Linked DNA regions of Homo sapiens. The protein of the gene in region 4 purifies or fractionates together with the protein of the main gene of each other region. This does not show direct contact. Each region holds a gene or a part of one and is shown on either strand. Other genes may lie near its edges.

Evidence for each region.
Region 1: the proteins of SLC15A4 (region 4) and STK11IP purify together in Homo sapiens (affinity purification with mass spectrometry; one large-scale study listed by BioGRID and IntAct). This does not show direct contact.
Region 2: the proteins of SLC15A4 (region 4) and SLCO4A1 fractionate together in Homo sapiens (co-fractionation; one large-scale study listed by BioGRID). This does not show direct contact.
Region 3: the proteins of SLC15A4 (region 4) and STX12 purify together in Homo sapiens (affinity purification with mass spectrometry; one large-scale study listed by BioGRID and IntAct). This does not show direct contact.
Region 5: the proteins of SLC15A4 (region 4) and LGALS9 purify together in Homo sapiens (affinity purification with mass spectrometry; 2 studies listed by BioGRID and IntAct, with this or other methods). This does not show direct contact.
Region 6: the proteins of SLC15A4 (region 4) and ORC4 purify together in Homo sapiens (affinity purification with mass spectrometry; one large-scale study listed by BioGRID and IntAct). This does not show direct contact.
Region 7: the proteins of SLC15A4 (region 4) and VAMP7 purify together in Homo sapiens (affinity purification with mass spectrometry; one large-scale study listed by BioGRID and IntAct). This does not show direct contact.

The regions. Positions count from the first base shown.
Region 1 is NC_000002.12:219,611,357-219,614,856, forward strand, and holds part of STK11IP (serine/threonine-protein kinase 11-interacting protein), read left to right. Parts: exon of another isoform or gene 1-5; intron 6-247; coding exon 248-478; intron 479-598; coding exon 599-702; intron 703-1,771; coding exon 1,772-1,869; intron 1,870-2,395; coding exon 2,396-2,574; intron 2,575-2,804; coding exon 2,805-2,886; intron 2,887-3,119; coding exon 3,120-3,190; coding exon of another isoform or gene 3,191-3,333; exon of another isoform or gene 3,334-3,500. UniProt on the Homo sapiens protein: May regulate STK11/LKB1 function by controlling its subcellular localization.
Region 2 is NC_000020.11:62,666,503-62,669,647, reverse strand, and holds part of SLCO4A1 (solute carrier organic anion transporter family member 4A1), read right to left. Parts: coding exon 3,073-3,145; exon of another isoform or gene 3,027-3,072; intron 1,904-3,026; coding exon 1,738-1,903; intron 1,637-1,737; coding exon 1,464-1,636; intron 1,172-1,463; coding exon 1,107-1,171; intron 719-1,106; coding exon 570-718; intron 1-569. UniProt on the Homo sapiens protein: Organic anion antiporter with apparent broad substrate specificity.
Region 3 is NC_000001.11:27,797,219-27,800,718, reverse strand, and holds part of STX12 (syntaxin-12), read right to left. Parts: intron 1-3,500. UniProt on the Homo sapiens protein: SNARE promoting fusion of transport vesicles with target membranes. Together with SNARE STX6, promotes movement of vesicles from endosomes to the cell membrane, and may therefore function in the endocytic recycling pathway.
Region 4 is NC_000012.12:128,817,459-128,820,958, forward strand, and holds part of SLC15A4 (solute carrier family 15 member 4), read right to left. Parts: intron 2,550-3,500; exon of another isoform or gene 1-2,549. UniProt on the Homo sapiens protein: Proton-coupled amino-acid transporter that mediates the transmembrane transport of L-histidine and some di- and tripeptides from inside the lysosome to the cytosol, and plays a key role in innate immune response.
Region 5 is NC_000017.11:27,634,188-27,637,687, reverse strand, and holds part of LGALS9 (galectin-9), read right to left. Parts: intron 1-3,500. UniProt on the Homo sapiens protein: Binds galactosides. Has high affinity for the Forssman pentasaccharide. Ligand for HAVCR2/TIM3. Binding to HAVCR2 induces T-helper type 1 lymphocyte (Th1) death.
Region 6 is NC_000002.12:148,014,238-148,017,737, forward strand, and holds part of ORC4 (origin recognition complex subunit 4), read right to left. Parts: intron 1-3,500. UniProt on the Homo sapiens protein: Component of the origin recognition complex (ORC) that binds origins of replication. DNA-binding is ATP-dependent. The specific DNA sequences that define origins of replication have not been identified yet.
Region 7 is NC_000023.11:155,933,345-155,936,844, reverse strand, and holds part of VAMP7 (vesicle-associated membrane protein 7), read right to left. Parts: intron 1-3,500. UniProt on the Homo sapiens protein: Involved in the targeting and/or fusion of transport vesicles to their target membrane during transport of proteins from the early endosome to the lysosome. Required for heterotypic fusion of late endosomes with lysosomes and homotypic lysosomal fusion.

The DNA.
Region 1 (3,500 bases), on a different chromosome or scaffold from region 4:
AGAAGGTAGAGTGCACTTTGAGGAGTTTGTGGGCCAGGGTTAGCTCATCCCTCCCTGGGGTGGGGAGTGATCAGTTGGCAGCTGTGCCGGGAGAGGGAGCTGGTGGCCTGGGGCGCGGTGGTTGTGTATGAAGCTGGAGGCTTGGGCTCAGGGGAGACCTGAGCATGGGGAAGGAGCATCGTGAGCATGGTGGGAGTTGTGGCACTGTGGGGGGGGCTCATGGGGACCGTGTCCATCCTCCCTCCAGAATCTCCTGCTGTGTGTCCTAACTGTGGTAGTGACCACGTGGTTCTCCTCGCTGTGTCTCGGGGAACCCCCAACAGGGAGCGGAAACAGGGAGAGCAGTCTCTGGCTCCTTCTCCGTCTGCCAGCCCTGTCTGCCACCCTCCTGGCCATGGTGACCACCTTGACAGGGCCAAGAACAGCCCACCTCAGGCACCGAGCACCCGTGACCATGGTAGTTGGAGCCTCAGTCCCCGTGAGTATAGGCAAAACAAGACATAGATGAGTTTGGGGAAGGGAAGGGGCACTGATGGGGAGGTGGAGATGGAGCCCAGGGGCTGCCATGGGCAGGCTGATGCCCCCTCATTGCCCTCAGCCCCTGAGCGCTGTGGCCTCCGCTCTGTGGACCACCGACTCCGGCTCTTCCTGGATGTTGAGGTGTTCAGCGATGCCCAGGAGGAGTTCCAGTGCTGCCTCAAGGTCTGTGCTCCCTGACACTGCCCATGCCCCCAGCTGTCCAGGGTGCCCACTCGTTTCCATCACAGCCAACTGAGTCAGATCAAGCACTCTAGAGACCTGATCTGGCTTCTGGTTTCAACCCCAGCAGCTTCTTGCTGTGTGGCCGTGGACACATTCCCTGGTATTTGAGTCCCAGTTGTTGCCTGTCTGCAATGGAGATAACGATGCCTCCCTTACACAGTGGCGTGCGTCAGGGCTCATGTTGAAGCTGCCCAGCCCAGCACCTGGCACTCATCAATGGGGCCTCCTAGCATTATTATAAACACATGATGTCGTTAGGCCTTTGTTGAGCACCTGTTGTGCTAGACATTGAGGATCTACAGATCAATCTTGCCCTTGATCTTACAGTCTGGTGTGAGAAGCTGACAATGATTATGCAATATGCAAATGCTGTAATCGGGCTAAGGCCCTTGAAGGGGTGTCTAGTCCAGCTTGAGTGGGTCAAGGAACCTTCCTGGGAGGTGATGTCTAAGCTCAGTCTTGAAGGGTAAGTTAAGGAGTAGGGAGGAAAAGAATGTCTTAGGTAAAGGAAGCCGCAAATGCATGGAGGCCCGAGAGTGTCGCTGGTGGGGAGAACTGCCCAGGATGAGGGCACCTGGACATGCAGGGCGAGGGGCAGGGGTCCTGAGAGGACTCTGGGGGGCCGGCAGGGGCCAGGTCAGGAGCTGCCTCCTGTGTCTGCCAAGGAGTTTGGACTTGTTTCTGAGGGCCACTGGGAGCCACTGAAGGATTTGAAATGGGGCAGTGATGGTCAGTTTTGTGCCTTAGAATAGTTAGTCTGGCGGAGCGTGGAGGGGGTGAGGCGACAGGCAGGGAAGCCAGCTGCTGAGGCTCTGAGCGGGCAGGGGCTGCAAGGCAGAGAGCGGTGGTGGATGAAGAGGCTGTCGAGTGTGAGGGAAGCTCCATAGACTGGTGGGTGGGCAGTGGGAGGGTCAGGCCGAGGGTGCTGTCACCAGGAACTCGGCTTTCAGTCTGGCCCCACCTCCCCAGGCCTCTCATCAGGTTTCTCACCAACTTCCTCTTCCCCCAGGTGCCAGTGGCATTGGCAGGCCACACTGGGGAGTTCATGTGCCTTGTGGTTGTGTCTGACCGCAGGCTGTACCTGTTGAAGGTGACTGGGGAGATGCGGTGAGTGAGAGGGGAGATGCAGTGAGTAAGGGGGGAGATGGGGTGAGTTGGGGGGAGATGGGGGAGTGAGGGGGAAGATGGGGTGAGGGGGGAGATGGGGTGAGTGAGGGGGGAGATGGGGTGTTAAGGGGGGAGATGGGGTGAGTGAGGGGGGAGATGGGGTGAGAGAAGGGGGAGATTGGGTGAGTGAGGGGGAGGTGGGGTGAGTGAGGGGGGAGGTGGGGTGAGTGGGGGGGAGGTGGGGTGAGTGGGGGGGACGTGGGGTGAGTGAAGGGGGAGATGGGGTGAGTGGGGGGCGGAGATGGGGTGAGTGGGGGGCGGAGATGGGGTGAGTGAGGGGGGAGATGGGGTGAGTGAGGGGGAGATGGGGTGAGTGAGGGAGGAGATGGAATGAGGGGGAAGATGGGGTGTGGTGAGCGCACGGGGGTGATGCAGTGAGTGAGGCAGGTGCAGCTGGGGCAGGGCCTCTCTGGGACTCTCACTCCACTCTCATGCTTCTCCATTGCTCTGTCCCCTCTCTCCACAGTGAGCCTCCAGCTAGCTGGCTGCAGCTGACCCTGGCTGTTCCCCTGCAGGATCTGAGTGGCATAGAGCTGGGCCTGGCAGGCCAGAGCCTGCGGCTAGAGTGGGCAGCTGGGGCGGGCCGCTGTGTGCTGCTGCCCCGAGATGCCAGGCATTGCCGGGCCTTCCTAGAGGAGCTCCTTGGTGAGAGAGGGGAGGGGAAGGCAGGAGGGTGGGCAGGAGGGTGGGCAGGGCCTTGGGGCCAGGCTCCCCACCTGGTACCCAGTAGCGGAGACAGAGAGGTAACAGGACTTGTCCCTTGTAGAAGTTTCTGAAATCCAGAAATGTGGAGAATAGGAAGGGATTGAGAGGTGGTGAGTTTAGGCTGGAGGAGAGCAGAGCCTTCTAAAGTTCCCTGGCCTGCCTCTGTCTAGATGTCTTGCAGTCTCTGCCCCCTGCCTGGAGGAACTGTGTCAGTGCCACAGAGGAGGAGGTCACCCCCCAGCACCGGCTCTGGTGAGTCGATAGGAGGCAGAGGCTGGGGTTGCTGCCCAATCCTCTTTCCACAGAGCCCCAGACATGGCCCTGTGCTGAGTAGGTCCTGGGCAGCCACCTGTCCTCATGCCATGCCCCTTATGGGCCCCTAGTGTCTCCTCCCAACCCCCTGCAGGGCTTTCTTCCCACTCCCCTCTCTTCAAGTCCTTCCCACCCGCTAGCTGATCTTCCTGTGCCTGCCATATTCCCTCTAGGCCATTGCTGGAAAAAGACTCATCCTTGGAGGCTCGCCAGTTCTTCTACCTTCGGGCGTTCCTGGTTGAAGGTGAAGCCTCTGTGCAGCTGATGCTTCCCTGGTCTCTGTACCCTACCTTGTCACAGGCACTGGCCCACGCGCAGCACCTGTACAGTGCCCTTGCAGCAACTGTCAGTTCCTGGAACCTGGAGAACCTCTCACTTGAGGGCATAGCTGAGTAACAGCCTCAGTGTGCCCTGACCCTCTGGGTGGGGTTAGGAGGCACCCAGGATCCTCAGTTACCCAGAGCCTTTGCTCTCGGGCCCAGGCTTTCTATGAAGTGGAGCAGCGTGGCTGAGTCGGCCCTGCCTCATCAGTCACAGAAGGAGAGGGTGGAGCC
Region 2 (3,145 bases), on a different chromosome or scaffold from region 4:
GGGGGCAAATTCCAAACACAAATACTGCGTTTCCTCCCAGGTAGCATACGCCAAAAGTCACAACAGAAAGTTTCTGTTAGCTTGAAAAATGAGGGCCAGACTAAGAGATCCAATGGAATCCAAGGCGCACTGATCACGGAGAGGCTGCAACCTGCCCGCCAGCCCCCCAGACTGAGGCCCGGAGTGGACCAGCTAGTCAAGCCGCTCTAACAGGAGCAGCCACTTCTTATTTCTGCAAAGCTTTTAGTTAACGGGCATCCCGGGTACGTGCAAGACCACACTGTGGAGGGGCAGTCCCAGGAGGTGGGAGAGGGAGCAGGGCCTGGGCCTGGGCTTTGCTGGAGCTGCTGGGGGCCTGGACAGTGAACCCCAGGAGGAGGCCCTGCAGCCCACCTGCCTCTCCCCACAACCAACTCATGAGGAATGTGGGAAGGGCCTTCTACAAACTGGCTGCAGGAACATCTGTGATGTACTAGGCTGTGGTCCAAGCTGCTGGAAGATCGCGGCATGTTCGGAGCCCCCAGCCACCCTCAGAGCAGACCCTCTGTCCCCTCCCTGGGCCTGCTTACCTTGTACAGGAGCCCCATGATGAGTATGTAGCGGCTCATGGCCGAATTCTGGTACACCAAGCAGGAGCCCTGCTGGCCACACTGGTCCTGCCACAGCAGACAGGCCTTGTCGATCACCCAGCCGAAGGCGATGGGCCCCGGGATGCCCCCTGCGGAGAGAAGCCCACTCAGCACCCACACTCCTGGTGGGTAGGGGCTAGGCAGGGGGCAGGCAGCCAAGAGGCCTGGAATGATGGGCTCTGGGAAGGTGATACTGGCCGTTGGAGTTCTCAGGGGGTGCAAAGAGGGCTTAAACGTTCCTTTCTTTGGGCATTCGGCATTGGGGCTGCGAGTTTCCCATGATCTCCCAGGGAAAGCCTTTGGGCAAATAAATGACGATGGGCCCCTCTAGTGGACAGTTAGGGAATGGACCCCTTCCCAGGCGGGAACAGCCTCCTGCTGGGAAGCACATCCCCTTGGTGGTTAGACACTTGCCCATGCCCTTGTGCAGTGAGCACACTGTGCAACTGACCATGGCTTCCTCACACTGCACAGTACCTAGTATTCTAACTACAATCCACTGGATTCCCAGGGCAAAGGATCTCTGAGGGTCACGGACACATCTGCAATAGAAAACCACAGCGTCAGCACCCACAGAAGTGGGGTTGCATGCCAAGTCACCCCCTAGGCCAGTGGCCTCCTGGACCAGTCCCCAGCCACATCATCACCCCCCCCCAAGTGGGAAGCCCCTCGTCAGAGATCAGAGACAGTGAGGTCTCTCCTGCCACCAGTGACAGACAGGCCCGCTTAGACCTGGGTGTTTCCTGGAGTGCTCCTGTCTCAGGATCTGCAGAGCTCCGCCTCAGGGTGCTGCAAGGAAAGCTCTGGACAAGCGCACACCCGACCCCAGCTTACCGTAGAGTTGCCGTTAGTGCAGGAATGCTGCTGAGGAATGTAAAGAAAATTACAACGAATATGAAAACCAGAAGGAGGGGCTTTCTCTGACAAGTTGAAGTGCATTTCCCTGCAGTGGCATGGCCAAAACCAGAGGAAAGATTCTGAGGGATACAGCTACAGTCTCGGTACACCTGGGAAGCCCAACAATAGCTCCGATTACAAGGGGAAGGCACGGGGGCCCCTTCCCAGGGTCCAGGGGAGGACAGGGGCGGTAGGCAGCGGCTCCACTCACCTTCTGGCCGTCCACATTCGTCTCCGTGGCTGCAGGGCACCCTGCGTGGCACAGTGAGAAGTACATGAGGCCGTCCGAGCCGCACACAGGGCTGTAGTGTTCTGGCTGGCAGCTGCAGGCAGCGTTGCAGGGAGCCGTTAGGTTCAGGTGGCCTTCGGGCAGGAGGCTGCAGAGGGGGGACAAGCGAGTGGTAGGGTCCAGGCCAGAGCCATGCTGGCGCCCAGCAGGCACAGGGTCAGCCATGGGGCTCGTCCCCATGCAGCCTGCATTTCGGGTCTACAAACTTGCCAAGCTTGCACCGCCCCCAGCACGCTGGGCACTCACACTGGGCACTGCCTTCTGGTGATAGAATGGTTTTTCCTCCTCACGCAAGGAAGGCACACCCATGCCCCCCAGCACCGTCCGCCTGATGCACAGCCCCTTTCCCTAGTTCATTTGTTTTTGGACAGGCAACACATTCATATGGATCAAATACAAACATTAGGAAAGAAAAAGCGCCAAGTACACAAAGGCAGCCTCGTGGCCCCAGCCCCACCCCAGTCCTCGGTTCTCCAGCCACAGGCCGGCTGTGCATTTGCAGGGGTCGTCTGCACGTACACGCCCCTCGGCAGTCACAAACATCTGCACTTCTCACTTGAATCAGAGCACACTGCGCCCATTGTCCAACTCCTTCCTTTTTCCCACTTCACAGTATGTCTTGGCAGTGGCCCAGGATGAGCTTCCTCCACTCCTTTGTGGGCAGGGCCTCTGTTGTGAGGACAGCGTAGTGACCCCGTCCACCCTGATGACTCTTAGGTTCCGATAATGCCACAACGGCTGCTTTGTGCTTCTCGGCCTTGCACGGCACCTGCAGGTGCACTCCCGGGGCCCGCAGGGCAGGGCCGAGGTGCAGGCTACCTACGTGTATTTTGGATATTCCCTAATTGCCACCTGACCAGCAGGTGTCCCTCCCACTCCCAGCACATGGCAACTCCAGGAGCACATCCTGGGACACTTTTTATGTCACCGAGAGACCAGCCTCAAGGACCCCGAACACTAGGGCTGTTGTTCCATTTGACACAGCTACAGAGCAGAGTGCTGAGGCCCAGAGAGGCATATGACTGCCCGGGGGCACAGCCGGGACCCAAGCGCAGGCACTGCTGGGGGCTGGCATGGTGCCTTTTCACGTGGATGCTGCCGGGTGCCCTGCTGAGCGGGTGTTGCCCTTGCCGCTGTCCTGTGACGTAGCCCTTTTCAAAACCACCTCTCCCAAGTGCTGCACCACTCCTCCTCCATGCCCAGGGACCGCGGGTGCTTGGGGCCCCGACGCGTACCCAGGTGCCATCTGGCCCTCACCTCCCGCCGTAGCTGGCTGTGACGCCCGCCATGGGCACACTGGGGCAGTGCAGTGAGAAGACGAGGATGCCCA
Region 3 (3,500 bases), on a different chromosome or scaffold from region 4:
GACAAAATCCTATCTCTACAAAAAATAAAAAAATTAGCCGGGCGTGGTGGTACACATCAGCTACTCAGAGGCTGGGGCAGGAGGATCATTTGACCCTGGAAGGTTGAGGCTGCAGTGAGTTGAAATCATGCCATGTACTCCAGCCTCAGCAATAGAGTGAAACTCTGTCTGAAAAAACAAAACAAAACACACACACACACACACACACACACACACACACACACACACACCACATACTGACAGCATTGTCCTGTTCTATGAACACAGAAGTAAAAACTCACCCCTGACCTCAAACAGCTGTCTATTTGTAAATAAAGGATATAGACAGACAAGTAACAAAGTTATTATAAATAACTGCTATATCCAATTGGTACTACAGGAGTTCAGAGGGCAGGAATAATCAGTAAGAACTCAAGCGGCCAAGAAAGGCCTCAAGAGAAGGTGGACAGTGAAGTAAGAGGAAGGCATGAATAAGCAGAAAGAAGGGGTAAGGCAAATCCAAGCAAGAGAATAGTGTGAGCAAAGGCATGGTGGCAGAACTTGAAGAGGATCTCTAGACAGACTGTTTGGTTGGAACTACACGTTTAGTAATGAGAGTAGCTAAAATACAAAATTGGAAAGTTAAGAAAGGGGCCAACCACAGCAGGTTTTAAATGCCAAGCTAGGCCGGGCGCAGTAGCGCATGCCTGTAATCCCAGCACTTTGGAAGGCAAGGTGGGTGGATCACTTGAGGGCAGGAATTATTCAAGACCGTCCTGGCCAACATGGTGAAACCCCATCACTACTAAAAATAGAAAAAATTACCTAGACATGGTGGCAGGCACCTGTAATCCCAGCTACTTGAGAGGCTGAGGCAGGAGAATTGCTTGAACCAGGAGGTGGAGGTTGCAGTGAGCTGAGATCGTGCCATTGCACTCCAGCCTGGGCAACACATGTGAAACTCCGTCTCAAAAAACAAAACAAAACGCCAAGCTATTGGGAGGATGAGGCAGGCAGATCACGAGGCCAGGAGATGGAGACCATCTGGCTAACATGGTGAAACCATGTCTCTACTAAAAATACAAAAAATTAGCCAGGCGTGGTGGCGTGCGCCTGTAGTCCTTTGCCACTTGGGAGGCTGAGGCAGGAGAACTGCTTAAACCTGGAAGGTGGAGGTTGCAGTGAGCTGAGATCGCGCCACTGCACTCCAGACTGAGCAAAAGAGCCAGGTTCTGTCTCAAAAAAAAAAACAAAAAAAAAAACAAGCTAATGAGTTTGGGGTTCAACCTCTAAAGAACAAAGAGCAATGAAGATTTTTGAGCAAGAAACATCATGGGTACAAAATAGTAACTTAGAAAAATTAGTCTGTGATGAGACCTGGGTCACCGTTTACACAAAGGTGGAATGGAAAAAAGAAACAAGTCAAACAGAACACTAATTCAATAGTCTAGGTTTAAGGTTAGGAGGACACAGTATCAGTAATAAAATCATAAAGAAATGAATTTAAGAAACATTTTGACTGGTGGTGGGGAAAGAGAGATAAAGTCAAGAATGACTGAAATTTCAAACCTGGAAGAGTGATGGTAATACTAAAAGCAAATTTAGATGAGCAACCCTTTTCTTCTGAGATTTTTATTTTTGCATAAACAAAATTATAACAATAACGGGGAGGACATCATTCCCTAACCTTACCGTGCAAAAATATTATCATAACTTTTAAATACATCATAAACATTTTCCATGTTACCATACTCTTCACAATTATGTTTTTGTTTTTTTTTTTTTTGAGACAGGGTCTTGCTCTGTCACCCAAGCTGGGGTGCAGTGGTGTGATCTCAGCTCACTGCAGCCCCAACCTCCCAGACTCAAATGATCCTCTCACCTCAGCCACCTGAGTAGCTGGGACTACAGATGTGTACCACGATGCCTGGCTAATTTTTTTTTTTTTTTTTTTTTTTTGAGACGGAGTCTCGCTCTGTCGTCCAGTCTGGAGTGCAGTGGCACGAGTTTTTTTTTTTTTCTTTTTTTGAGATGGAGTCTCGCTCTGTCACCCAGGCTGCAGTGCAGTGGCGCGATTTTTTTTTTTTTTTTTTTTGAGAGGGAGTCTCGCTCTGTCACCCCGGCTGGAGTGCAATGGCACAATCTCAGCTCACTGCAACCTCCGCCTCCTGGGTTCAAGCAATTCTCCTGCCTCAGTCTCCCGAGTAGTTGGGATTATAGGTGGCCACCATCACGCCTGGCTAATTTTTGTATTTTTAGTAGAGATGGGGTTTTGCCATGTTGGTCAGGCTGGTCTCAAACTCCTGACCTCAGGTGATCCGCCCACCTCGGCCTCCCAAAGTGCTGGGATTATAGGCATGAGCCACCGTGCCTGGCTAATTTTTGTAGAGATGTTGCCCGGGCTGGGTCTCAAACTCCTGTACTCAAGCAATCCACCCGCCTCAGCCTCCCAAAGTTCTGGGATTACAGGTGTGAACCACTGTGCCCGGCCATGATCTTTAATCGCTTACATATATTCCATCAAGTTGACCTAAATTTTATGTAAATAATCCTTCTAGATTTTTCACAGTTATTAAATATTATAAAGTAAGCCCCAATGTAATGGCTAATATTTATATAGTGCTTAAATTGTACCAGTACTACTGTAAGTGCTTTACATAATAATTCATTTATCTATACAATGACCTATAAATTAGGCATTATTATAGTCCCAACTTTACACATCAGAAAACCAAAGCACCACAGAGGCTATGTAATTTGCCCAGGATCACACAGTAAGTGACAAAGATGGATTTAAATCCAGGAAATTTGGCTCCAGAGTATATAGACTCTGTGTGTGTGTGTGTGTGTGTGTGTGTGTGTGTTTACCTTCAGAATTTTTTTTCCCCTTAGGGCTAATTAGCATGAGTGAGAATATTAGGTCAAAAGGCACAAACTTTTCTGTGATGTTAAGTATTGTCAATGAACTTAGTTAAGGGGTTTGGGAGAAACATGAGAAACTCAGTATAAGACAAGTTTTATATGAAGGTAGTTTATTTCAGGAGGAGATGTCAGAACATGAATTGAAGATATGGGCCACGCACTTAGAGGTGAAGGGGTTAGATTGGAAAAAGATCTGAGGTCATGATCATAAAGGTGAAAGGGAGGTCATAAAAGCAGGTGACTCCTAAGGAGAAAGCATACAGTGAAATAATTCGAGGATCAATGGCACAACCTTGGGGCATGCCCACTCTTAGGAGGATATGAAGTCCGGGAAGGAGGCTGACTCAACCTGGGGATCTCCAGAGTTGGGGGACACAATGAAAGAGAATCATGGCAAGAAGAAAGTTTCAGGGCAGACGGGATAGGCAAGAGGATCAAAGGAAACAGAAAAAAAGTGAATAGGCCAGGCATGGTAGCTCACACCTGCAATCCCAGAACTTTGGAAGGCCGAGGCAGGCGGATCACTTGAGGTCAGGAATTCAAGACCAACCTGGCCAACGTGGCAAAACCCTGTCTCTGCTAATAATACAAAAATTAGC
Region 4 (3,500 bases):
ATAGAGGCACAAATGATTTCCTAACTGAAATGTACTCGGACCTTCCCATTACCCACAGTGACACTGCACACACCTTCCCACGGTCTCACTCGGGCCTTCCCGTTACCCACAGTGACACTGCACATATCTTCCCACAGTCTCAGACTTATGTCCTCTTCAGATGAAGCATGAAAATATCAGCATTTGATTACTCTGGGAAAATCCTAACCTTAAAATGCCATTCATCCTCATTTCCTGTGTAATTGTGGTGGTCAATTTATTCCAACTCCAAGAGTAATCCATCAAAATTACTTTATAAGCCAAAATTACTAAGCCCTAAATAACCACACAGCAGGCATTTCTGTACCAAGGGAACCTGGCTGCTGTGAAGGGACATCACATGCTTCCCAGCCCCTGGCGAGCAGGCCACAACCTCCTGCCCATCGTTTGCATGACATCACTGTGTGAGCTGCAGCTACGTGCCCTACCAAGGGTAAACAAGGTTTTCACATGACTGGCCAAAAGATACCACCAAAATCAATTTGGAGAAGAAAAGCTAAAAGAATAGAATTGTGTACAGCATACCAAACAGTTGGCTGACAGAAGAATTCCTTAAAATGGGGTGTCAGTTTTTCCTCTAGAAAAAAAAAAAATGCATCATTTGCTCTTTTCATCTGTAACATAAGATTTTCGTCTTTCAGGTCACTATTTCAAATAATCCATCCACCAAGAACGATTGTGACCTTTGAAAAAGGTGAAACACTGGGGGAAGATACGGCCTGACATGATTTACACGAACATACGTCTCCCTTGGACTCACAGCTCACACATCCTCTTTCAGAAGCCAACTAGGCCTCCTTCTCAAAGCTATGCAGCCTCACCCCATTGTCTCTCCTATCAGAATGTTTCCCAGAGGCTCTACCTGGGAGATGAAGAGGTAAGTGACAAAGAACCATAAAAAGCACCTTAAAAATACAAACAGGTTTCCTCTAAATGAAAAGGACCAAACCAGGACAAATTAACCCTCGCCTGGGGCACAACAGAGTGTACTTCAGGCCTGCACACCTCAGGGTCCCCAGCCAGGCCTCCTGCCATGAAGCAGCCGCACCTGGAGGGGGACCTGCCACCTGGTCACGGGCAAGCACCCTGGCATAAGGGTACTTTTCCCTTCAAATGTTTTTTCACTATGATTCACATACCATAAAATTCACCCTTCAAAAGTGTACAATTCAGTAGTGTCTAGTATATTCAGAGATGTACAGCCATCACTGCCATCCAAGTCCACATTCTCATCACACCAACAGGAACTCCTGTTCCCTTTAAGTCAGTCCCACGCCCCTCTCCTGGCCCGTGGCAACCCTTAATCTACTTCCAGTCTCTGTGGACTCGCCTCTTCCGGGCATTCCACATCAATGGAATCACACAACTGGGGCCTTATGTGTCTGGCTTCCTTCATGCAGCCGAATGTTTTCAAGGCTCATCAGTACTTCATTTCTTTTTTAATGGCTGAAAAATATGCCATTGTATGGATATACTATATTTAGTTTATACATTCATCAGTGAACATTTTCTTATCTTTCATTTAAAAAAATTCCAAATGTATAGAAAAGTTGAATTGCAAAATGCACACCTCTCTACCCTTCACTTGGAGCCTCAGCACTTTTTTCTATACATAAAAAATACTGGCCGAGCGCGGTGGCTCACGCCTGTAATCCCAGAACTTTGGGAGGCCGAGGCAGGTGGATCACCTGAGGTCAGGAGTTCGAGACCAACCTGGCCAACATGGTGAAACCCCGTCTCTATTAAAAATACAAAAATTAGCCAGGCGTGGTGGCTCACACCTGTAGTCCCAGCTACTCAGGAGGCTGAGGCAGGAAAATAGCTTGAACCAGGAGGCAGAGGTTGCAGTGAGCTGAGATCATACCGCTGCACCCCAGCCTGGACAAGAGAATAAGACTTGGTCTTAAAAAAAAATACTTCTGGGTGATCTACATACAAATAAGCTCCAGCAACCAATTTCACCCCCAAAATTTCATCATGAATCTCCTGGAAATAAGGACATTCTTTTAACGGCAGTGAAATTACCACACCTAAGAAAGGCAACATTGGTCCATTATTAGCTAATAGGCGGTCTACAAACTATCCCAAGCATCCAAGAAGAACGGCCATGAAAGCAGCTGGGATCCAATCACTCAGCACGCGCTGCAGGGGGCGGCCAGGTCTCCCGAGTAGCCTTTCATCCACAAGGTCCTCTTTTAACATGACAGCATTACGTCGGAAGAGATCAGGCCAGCTATCTTTCGGAAGAAGGCACATCTCCTTTCAACATCCACATTTAATTATGGATGAAAGAGCGCATATTCTGTCAGATTCATCTGAGATAACCGAGCACCATTTCCTCCTCATTTTAAGAAGTATCAATTACTCGCCTGTTATATCCTGGAGAGCACCAGCTTTTAAGTCAGGCTGCCAGGGCCCCAAACCAGCTCCCCTAGGCACCTGCTGTGCAGCCTTGGGAGCTAACCCTCTAGGCCTCTGTTCCCTGGACAACAGGCTTAACTGCAGCACACACACCAGCAACTGTGGCGAGGCTTAAATAAGATCACGTGGGAAAGGCACAAGTAAGAGGCATAATAGAAGCTTTCCAGTACACCTGTGTGGGGTGGCCAAGTCTTTAAAAGATAGAGGCTGACTGTGCTACCAGCCCCGTTCCTTCATGAGCCAATGGCACCCCAAGGCCAAGAGCCTGGGCCTTGAGATCCAGCCCTGCAGAACCATTACGGAACGCACGCACACTGGGCCCATCTTAGTGTGGTAGCTAAAAAAGAACCAGAGCTGGGATAGAAGTCCAGCTTGACCACTCACTACCTACAGGCAGTAAGAAAGTGATCTGTTTTTGTGCCTGTTTCCTCATCAGTAAAGTGGATCTAAGACTCCTGTGAGGTTCAGATTTCGTCACATATGTAAAGCATACGCCACTGTACAAAAAACCCAGTTCCAATTCAGTACATTAGAAACTATCATTTCTAACGTCATTCTAAGGTGTCTCCTGACTGTAACGGATAGCCTTACACAGGCAGAGTGAAAGCTCACATTCAAAGGACAGGCTTTTGAATCCTGGCTCAGTCACATACAAGCTGTGTAACTTTGGGCCAATGATTAAACCTCTCAAGCCTCAGTTTCCTCATCAGTAAAATGGGCACCGTACGTGTCATGTAGACTAAGTAGTCGTGTAGACATGTAGACATGTAGCATACGTGTCATGTGGACTAACCAGATACTGTACTTAGGTACTTAGCAAGCACTGTGCCTGGTGCACAGTAAGCTCTCAGTAAATGTTCCTAAAAAACAGGCACTCACAGATACTTAGGCAAAAGCCTAAGAGTCGCCTTCCCTACTGCTCACATGCCATGGTTTCCATATCTGACCCTCCAAACCTCATGAAGAAATGTGATCCCCAGTGCTTCTCGTGGGGCCTAGTGTTTGGGTCATGGGGACGGATCCCTGAAGAAAGGCTTGGG
Region 5 (3,500 bases), on a different chromosome or scaffold from region 4:
TGCCCTCCTGGCCACCTTCAGCAGAGCGTCTTCCCAGATGCCTTCTGTAGCCGTGGGGCAGCCCCCTCCTCTATTTCTGTGCCCGGGCTCCCCATTCCTTCCCTCAGGCCCTCAGCAGCCCCGAGGCCTAGCGTGGTTTCCCCACCCATCCCAGGCCCCACGGGCAACCACTTTGTCAAATTCTCTCTTCTGGTGCTCTTTAAAGGAGTGATGGGCCATGGTGAGGCATGCATCGTTTTAGAGTCAGGCCAACTCCAGGTCTGAATCCTAGCTCTGCTGCTCATGACCTGAGTGACCTTGGGAAGCCTATTTCACCTCTCTGTGCCTCAGTTTCCTCATCTGTAAAATAGGAAGGTGTTTCACCTGCTGCATATGATTGATGATTTTGTGAGAAACAGCCTGTGGTAAAAGAGACTGGCACATAGGAGATGCTTCACCACTGTCACCCACCCCCCACCTTCATCTCTCTCAGCAAAATTCACAAACTGGTACTTCCAATTTTCAAAGTTTATTCCCAAAATGCTTCATATCCAATGTCGTTCTATAACCCGCATTAAAGCACAGTTCTATCTCCTGGCTGATTTTCACATTCTTCAAGTTTTTAATGTCTTCTCTAATATCTCCTTTAGGTCAATTTCCTACACAAATTAAATGCCTAAAGGAGCCAGGCAGGTGATGTGTATGGGTGAGATGGCCAGGTGGGGGAGTGGTGGGGACTGTGGCAAAGTAGATGTCACACCCCTCATCTGAAAAGTCAACATCTACTCCGTGCTAAGCAGTGATTGCCATCTGGGCCCAGTATTGGCAGAGCTTCCAAATTTTTAAGAGAAGACAGAAGTCCGGATTTTTTTTTTCTATAAAACTTTCTAATTTCTTGGGGGAAAATTTGTCAAAAAGGATTATGTAAAAGCTCCTGGCTGGGCACAGTGGCTCACATCTATAATCCCAGCACTTTGGGAGGCTGAGGCAGAAGGATCACTTGAGCCCAGGAGTTTGAGGCCAGCCTGAACAACGTAATGGGACCCCCATCTCTACAAAAAATAAAAAAAAAATAGCTAGGTGTGGTGGTGCACACCTTTAACTCTAGTTACTTGGGAGGCTGAGGTGGGAGGATCCCTTGAGCCTGGGAGGTGGAGGCTGCAGTGAGCCATGATCACACCACTGTACTCCAGCCTGGGCAACAAAGTGAAATCCTGTCTTGAAACCCCCCAAATTCCCATATTATAGAGATACAAAATGAAATATTTGAAATGGAATGGTATCTTTGGATTTGCTTCCACATATCTGAGGGTGGGAAGGAAGCAAGCGAGGGAGGGTATAGGATGAAGCAAGATAGGCCTGAGTTGATCATTGTTGGAGCAGAGTGATGGGTGTGTGTTGTTGATGGTACAATTCCTTCTGCATGTTTGAATTTCCTATAATAAAACGTTAAAAGAAACACTGTGCAGGCCAAACAGAAAACACCCACCAGCCAAATTCAGCCTACTTGCCACTGCTTTCTGGTCTGTATTGTTGAGTTGTGTGACCACACAGAACCCTGGGAAACCCATCCTAGCTCAGTGTACACACCTGGCACCGTGAGAGCCCCAGGAAATCTGGGATCTGATTCAGTTAGACTCTGCTCCCCATGGATTTGAGGGGGGTGTCTTTTGTTGCCCCTCAGGTCAGGTCTGAACTCTGCCATTAAGTACTTTAGTGACCTCAAGCAAATCACAGCTTCTCTGTGTCTCTGACTTCTCATTCTTGTCCCTGTCTACACCAGCAGTGTAGGGGAAGGAGAGTCAGCCTGATCCAATTATGGACCAGCACGGCCTAGGATTGGGAAGCCTGTTTTCCCTGAAACATGTCTGTGGAACATTTTTCTCCTTGCCTGTTTGTGGAAGCCTGTGATTCTCTCCAGAGCCTTTCATACTATCATGAGACACAACACTGAAAATACACACCCTCCTGGGAAGCATGCGGCCTCCACTTAAGTGTATTCACAGCACAGCATCTAGAATTGAAGGCAGAGCGTGATGGACATGGGCTGGCAAGTACACACAAGGCTTAATTAAGGAAGCCAGGAGGGAGAAAGAGGAAGTACAGATCATGGGGGCGGGACAGGACAGGCTAATCTCCAAGGCAACAAGTTCCCCAAAAAAGCTCTGTGAGGTTTCAAAATATCTTAAATAGTGCCCCCAAAATTCGGAAAAACAAGATTATTTATTTATTTATTTATTTATTTATTTATTTATTTATTTATTTAGAGATGGGTTCTCACTCTGTTGCCCAGGCTGGAGTTCAGTGAGGGCTGTGATCATGGTTCACTGCAGCCTCCACCCCCTGGCTCAAGTAATCCTCCCGCCTCAACCTCCCGAATAGCTGGGACAAAATAGGTGCAGGCCACCATGTCCCACTAATCTTACAATATTTTTTGTAAAGATGGGGTCTCTATGTGTTGCCTGGGCTAGCTCAAGTGATCCTTCCGGCTCGGCCTCCCAAAGGGCCAAGATTTCAGGCATGAACCATCATGCCTGGCCTGAAAAATGAGTTTTTAAATTGAATATCATCCTACAAACAAGGTTATTCATTGCAGCATTATAACACAAAGGATTATAAAGCAAAGCATTGGAAAGAGCTTAAAAGTCCTCTGACAGGAAAAAGGTGAAATAAATTAGGGTATTTCCATTTAATAGGTTCTGTGTAGCCTTAAAAAGAAAAGAAAAAGAGGAAGACAGAACTCTGAGCACTGATATGGAATGATGCCATTTGTATAAAAAGTGGGTGGGGGAAGTCTATGGACTTGCATTTATTTATTTATAGATAAAATATATCTGGAAGGATTTATAAGAAACTTATAACACTGGTTACCAGTGGGCCACCCCCCAGAAACATCCACATTCGAATCCCCGGAAACTGTGAATATGTTGTAGAAGGGACTTTGTAGATGTGATTAAATTAGTAATTTTGGCATGGGGAGATTGTCCTGATTTTAAAGGTGGTCCCAATGTGATCACAAGGATCCTATAAAAGGAAGGCAGGAGGATCAGTGTCAGAGGTAGGAGATGTGACAACAGAAGCACAGAAGCAAGAAGAAGCTGGTTTGCGTTTTTGGGGGGTTTTTGTTTGTTTTCGTTTTTTGTTTTTTGTTTTTTTTGAGACAGGATCTCATTCTGTCAGCCAGGCTGGAGTGTGTTGACGCGATCTCAGCTCACTGTAGCCTCCACTTCCTCAGGCTCACGTGACCCTCCCACCTCCGCCTCCCAGGTAGCTAGGACTACAGGCATGCACCACCACACCTGGCTAATGTTTGTCTATTTTTTGTAGAGACGTGGTCTCACTTTGTGGCCCAGGCTGGTCTCAAACTCCTGGATTAAGGAGATCCTCCTGCCTCGGCTTCTCAAAGTGCTGGGATTATAGGCATGAGCCACTGGGCCCAGCCAAAGCTGCTGGTTTTAAAGATGGCAGGAGGGGTCATAAGCCAAGGCCTGCAGGCAGCCTCTAGAAGATGGAAAAGGAAA
Region 6 (3,500 bases), on a different chromosome or scaffold from region 4:
AAAGCTGGGGACTCAGATAAACTACCCAATTTATGTTCAGAGTTTAAGGACAACATCATTAGGATAAGAGGAAATTGAAGGAAAATAGAATTCATGATCTTAAAGTCTTCCTTAATGTCATGTGTATAACAGAAGGAATCCCAACTCTTGAACATGAATAGTGACTTGGGACTGAAAGCACTCCTAGAGACCTTTCCTAGAAAAATGTACCTTCTTAAAAAAGATACTATTATTCTAGGACTCATATATTCCTATAATTTTTTAAATACAACTGGTACTCAAGGCACACAAGAAAAAAATATCATAAGCTAGCAGACACAGACTTAGAAAATTTAGAAACTGGAATTATCTTCAACAAACAACAAATGAACTATGAATATAGTCGGCCCTTCATAGCCACAGATTCACTCAACCAAGGATTAAAAATACATGTATATTTTTAAAAACACGACTATAAAAAATAATAGAAATTTTTAAAAAGCCATGACAGTATAACAATATTTACATAGCATCTACATTGTATTAGGTACCATAAGCAATCTAGAGATTATTTAAAATACGTGGGAGGATGTGTGTAGGCCGTATGCAAACATGATGGCATGTTATATAAGGAATTTGAGCTGCCTGTGGATTGTGGTATCTGCACGGGGTTCTGAAACCAATTTCCAGCAGATACTAAGGAGCAACTATACTAGGCCAATAAAAGCAAGATTGTAATTTTCAGCAGGTAACCAGAAACAGTAAGAATATCACCAATATCTTTAAAAAGATACTGATGCATTGATCTAATAATCTCGATGAATACAGGGCAAGATAAAGAATGCCACACGATGATTGAACATTTCCTCTACCCCCACAACCACACTTGACTAGGAGAAAAAAAAAAAAGAAGAAAAGAATTCCACACAAAAAGATTAGAGTGAAACAGCAGAAAAATTACAACCAAAAAAAGAAACAAACAAAAAAAAATTCTAAAAGAGAGATTTCCTTCAAAGCAGCATGAATTATTAGGTTGGTACAAAATTAATTGTGGTTTTTGCATTGTTGGAATTTGCCATTTGATATTGGAATTTTTTTTTTTTTTTTTTTTTTTTTGAGATGGAGTCTCTCTCTGTTGCCCAGGCTGGGCTGCAGTGGCGCGATCTCGGCTCACTGCAAGCTCTGCCTCCAGGGTTCACACCATTCTCCTGCCTCAGCCTTCTGAGTAGCTGGGACTACAGGCACCCGCCACCACGCCTGGCTAATTTTTTGTATTTTTAGTAGAGACAGGGTCTCACCATGTTAGCCAGGATGGTATCGATCTCCTGACCTCGTGATCCGCCCACCTCAGCCTCCCAAAGTGCTGGGATTACAGGTGTGAGCCACCACACCCGGCCTGGAATACATTCTTAAATAAATGTGGTTATGTTATATGTCATTTTAATGGGCATTTCTTGCTTTTTTTTTTTGGCTAATGACTTATTACTTGCTGTTTATATTTATTTTGGACTATGGAAATGATGCTAGACAAAAAGCAAAGTTGAGTGATTTTCTTATTTAAGTTCAAAGTGGGTCGTAAAACAGCAGAGACAACTTGCAATATCAACAATGCATTTGGCCCAGGAACTGCTAATGAACGTACAGTGCAGTGGTGGTTCAAGAAGTTTTGCAAAAGATACCAGAGCCTTGAGGATGAGGAGTGTAGTGGCAGGCCACTGGAAGTTGACAACAACCAATTGAGAGCAATCATTGAAGCAGATTGATCCTCTTACAATTACATGAGAAGTTGCTGAAGAACTCAACGTAAGAACTCAACGTCAACCATTCCACAGTTGTTCAGTATTTGAAGCAAATTGAAAAGGTGAAAAAGCTCGATAAGTGGGTGCCTCACCAGCTGAGCAAAAATTTAAAAAAACACCGTTTTGAAGTGTTGTCTTCTCTTATTCTCCACAACAACGAACCATTTCTCAATCGGACTGTGAGGTGCAACAAAAACTAGATTTTATATGACAAGCAATGACCAGCTCAGTGGCTGGACCGCGAAGAAGCTCCAAAGCACTTCCCAAAGCCAAACTTGCACCAAAAAAGGCCATGGTAACTGTTTGCTGGTCTGCTGCCGGTCTGATCCACTACAGCTTTCTGAATCCTGGAGAAACCATTACATCTGAGAAGTATGCTCAGCAAATCAATGAGATGCACTTAAAACTGTGATGCCTGCAGCCAGCATGGGTCAACAGAAAGGGCCCAATTCTCCACAGTAACACCCAACCGCACACTGCACAACCAACACTTCAAAAGTTGAACGAACTGGGCTACAAAGTTTTGCCTCATCTGCCATATTCACCTGACCTCTCAACTGACTACCACTCCTTCAAGCATCTCTACAACTTTTTTCAGGGAAAATGCTTCCACAACCAGCAGGATGCAGGAAAAAGCTTTCCAAGAGTTTGTGGAATCCTGAAGCATGGATTTTTACATTACAGGAAAAAACAAACTTATTTCTTGTCGGCAAAAATGTGTTGATTGTAATGACCTATTTTAATTAATAAAGATATGTTAGAGCCTCGTTATAATGATTTAAAATTCGCTGTCCCAAACCACAATTTCTTTTGTACCAACCTAATGCATTGACAGCTGATTTCTCAAAATCAATAATGAAAACCAAAAACAGTGAAATGTTATCTTCAAGGTACAAGTAAAACAACCACAAATCTGTAATATCCCCCAAAACATTCTTCAAGATTGAAGGCAAAACAAAAAATTAAGACAAAGCAAAAAAATTAAGAGAACTGACCATCAGAATGTCTGCATTATGAAACTTCTACTGAGTGTGCTAAAGTAAAAGTTAAAAGATTCCAAAAGAAAAGTCAGAGACGCAGGAAGAAATTAAGACATGGTAAACACATAGGAACATCTAGCTCAAAGTACTGTCCAGCAGCAATACAGTAAAAGTGACATAAGTAATTTAAAATTTTCTATTGTTCACACTAAAAGAAAACAAGGTGAAATCAATTATAATTTCAACATGTAATCATAATGAAAAGCTGAGGTATTTTACATTGTTTTCATACTGTCTTTGAAATATGGTGTTTATACAACATTACAATGCAGATGCTAAATTAAAACTGCCATATAAAATACTTGATCTATATTTTTATATAATTTGCAGCTAATGCCGGGTGCAGTGGCTCACGTCTGTGATCCCATCACTTTGGAAGCCCAAGGTGGGTGGATCACTTGAGGTCAGGAGTTTGAGACCAGCCTAGCCAAAATGGTGAAACTTTGCCTCTACTAGAAATAAAAACATTAGCCAGGTGTGGTGGCACATGCTTGTAATCCCAGCTACTAGGGAGGCTGAGGCAGGAGAATCACTTGAACTTGGGAGGCGGAGGTTGCAGTGAGCCAAGATCATGCCACTGGACTCCAGCCTGGGCAACAGAGCGAGACTCCATCTCCAGGGGGGAAAAAATCTCCAAAAATTAAAAAATAATAATTTAATAATTTGCGGTTAAGAAAGGTTT
Region 7 (3,500 bases), on a different chromosome or scaffold from region 4:
AAATTTCCTTTGATTCCTGTTCCAAGATGGCCAAATAGGAACAGCTCCAGTCTACAGCCCCCAGCGTGAGCAACGCACAAGACGGATGATTTCTGCATTTCCAACTGAGATACCGGCTTCATCTCACTGGGGCTTGTTGGACAGTGGGTGCAGCCCACCGAGCGTGAGCCGAAGCAGGGCGAGACATCGCCTCACCCGGGAAGCACAAGGGGTCAGGGAATTCCCTTTCCTAGCCAAGGGAAGCTGTGACAGATGGCACCTGGAAAATCGGATCACTCCCACCCTAATACTGCGCTTTTCCAACGGTCTTAGCAAACAGCACACCAGGAGATTATATCCCGCGCCTGGCTCAGAGGGTCCCACACCCACGGAGCCTCACTCATTGCTAGCACAGCAGTCTGAGATTGAACTGCAAGGTGGCAGCGAGGCTGGAGGAGAGGCGCCCGCCATTGCTGAGGCTTGAGTAGGTAAACAAAGCTGCCGGGAAGCTCGAACTGGGTGGAGCCCACCACAGCTCAAGGAGGCCTGCCTGCCTCTGTAGACTCCACCTCTGGGGGCAGGGCATAGCTGAACAAAAGGCAGCAGAAACCTCTGCAAACTTAAATGTCCCTGTCTGACAGCTTTGAAGAGAGTAGTGGTTCTCCCAGGACAGAGTTTGAGATCTGAGAACAGACAGACTGCCTCCTCAAGTGGGTCCCTGACCCCCAAGCAGCCTAACTGGGAGGTACCCCCCAGTAGAGGCAGACTGACACCTCACACGGCGGGTACCCCTCTGAGACAAAACCTCCAGAGGAACGATCAGAGAGCAACATTTGGTGTTCAGCAATATTCACTGTTCTGCAGCCTCCGCTGCTGATACCCAGGCAAACAGGGTCTGGAGTGGCCCTCCGACAAACTCCAACAGACCTGCAGCTGAGGGTCCTGACTGTTAGAAGGAAAACTAACAAACAGAAAGGACATCCACACAAAAACCCCATCTGTATGTCACCATCATCAAAGACCAAAGGTAGATAAAACCACAAAGATAGGGAAAAAAACAGCAGAAAAACTGAAAATTCTAAAAATCAGAGCGCCTCTCCTCCTCCAAAGGAACGCAGCTCCTCACCAGCAACAGAACAAAGGTAGACAGAGAATGACTTTGACGAGTTGAGAAAAGAAGGCTTCAGATGATCAAACTTCTCTGAGCTAAAGGAGGAAGTTTGAACCCAGCACAAAGAAGCTAAAAACCTTGAAAAAAAGATTAGATGAATGGCTAACTAGAATAACCAATGTAGACAAGTCCTTAAATGACCTGATGGAGCTGAAAACCATGGCACGAGAACTAAGTGACGAATGCACAAACTTCAGTAGCCGATTCGAACAACTGGAAGAAAGGGTATCCGTGATTGAAGACCAAATGAATGAAATGAAGCGAGAAGAGAAGTTTAGAGAAAAAAGAATAAAAAGAAACGAAAAAAGCCTCCAAGAAATATGGGACTATGTGAAAAGACCAAATCTACGTCTGATTGGTGTACCTGAAAGTGATGGGGAGAATGGAACCAAGTTGGAAAACACTCTGCAGGATATTAGCCAGGAGAACTTCCCCAACCTAGCAAGGCAGGCCAACATTCAAATTCAGGAAATACAGAGAACGCCACAAAGATACTCCTCGAGAAGAGCAACTCCGAGACACATAATTGTCAGATCACCAAAGTTGAAATGAAGGAAAAAATGTTAAGGGCAGCCAGAGAGAAAGGTCGGGTTACCCACAAAGGGAAGCCCATCAGACTAACAGCTGATCTCTCGGCAGAAACTCTACAAGCCAGAAGAGAGTGGGGGCCAATATCCAAAATTCTTAAAGAAAAGAATTTTCAACCCAGAATTTCATATCCAGCCAAACTAAGCTTCATAGGTGAAGGAAAAATAAAATCCTTTACAGACAAGCAAATGCTGAGAGATTTTGTCACCACCAGGCCTGCCTTACAAGAGCTCCTGAAGGAAGCACTAAACATGGAAAGGAACAACACATACCAGCCACTGGAAAAACATGCCAAATTGTAAAGACCATCAAGGCTAGGAAGAAACTGCATCAACTAACGAGCAAAATAACCAGCTAGCATCATAATGACAGGATCAAATTCACACATAACAGTATCAACCTTAAATGTAAATGGGCTAAATGCTCCAATTAAAAGACACAGACTGGCAAATTAGATAAAGAGTAAAGACCCATCAGTGTGCTGTATTCAGGAAATCCATCTCATGTGCAGAGACACACATAGGCTCAAAATAAAGGGATGCAGGAAGATCTACCAAGCAAATGGAAAACAAAAAAAGGCAGGGGTTGCAATCCTAGTCTCTGATAAAACAGACTTTAAACTAGCAAGGATCAAAAGAGACAAAGAAGGCCATTACATAATGGTAAAGGGATCAATTCAACAAGAAGAGCTAACTATCCTAAATATTTATGCACCCAATACAGGAGGACCCAGATTCATAAAGCAAGTCCTTAGAGACCTACAAAGAGACTTAGACTCCCATACAATAATAAAGGGAGACTTTAACACCCCACTGTCAACATTAGACAGATCAATGAGACAGAAAGTTAACAAGGATATCCAGGAATTGAACTCAGCTCTGCACCAAGCGGACCTAACAGACATCTACAGAACTCTCCACCCCAAATCAACAGAATATACATTCTTCTCAGCACCACATCGCACTTATTCCAAAATTGACCACATAGTTGGAAGTAAAGCACTCCTCAGCAAATGTAAAAGAACAGAAATTATAACAAACTGTCTCTCAGACCACAGTGAAATCAAATTAGAACTCAAGATTAAGAAACTCACTCAAAACTGCTCAGCTACATGGAGACTGAACAACCTGCTCCTGAATGACTACTGGGTACATAACGAAATGAATGCAGAAATAAACATGTTCTTTGAAACCAATGAGAACAAAGACACAACATACCAGAATCTCTGGGACACATTTAAAGCAGTGTGTAGAGGGAAATTTATAGCACTAAATGCCCACAAAAGGAAGCAGGAAAGATATAAAATTGACACCCTAACATCACAATTAAAAGAACTAGAGGAACAAGAGCAAACACATTCAAAAGCTAGCAGAAGGCAAGAAATAACTCAGAGCAGAACTGAACGAGATAGAGACACAAAAAACCCTTCAAGAAATCAATGAATCCAGGAGCTGGTTTTTTGAAAAGATCAACAAAATTGATAGACTGCTAGCAAGACTAATAAAGAAGAAAAGAGAGAAGAATCAAATAGACGCAATAAAAAATGATAAAAGGGGATATCACCACCGATCCCACAGAAATACAAACTACCATCAGAGAATACTACAAACACCTCTACACAAATAAACTAGAAAATCTAGAAGAAATGGATAAATTCCTTGACACATACACCCTCCCAAGACTAAACCAGGAAGAAGTTGAATCTCTGAATAGACCAATAACAGGCTCTGAAATTGAGGCAATAATTAATAGCTTACCAACC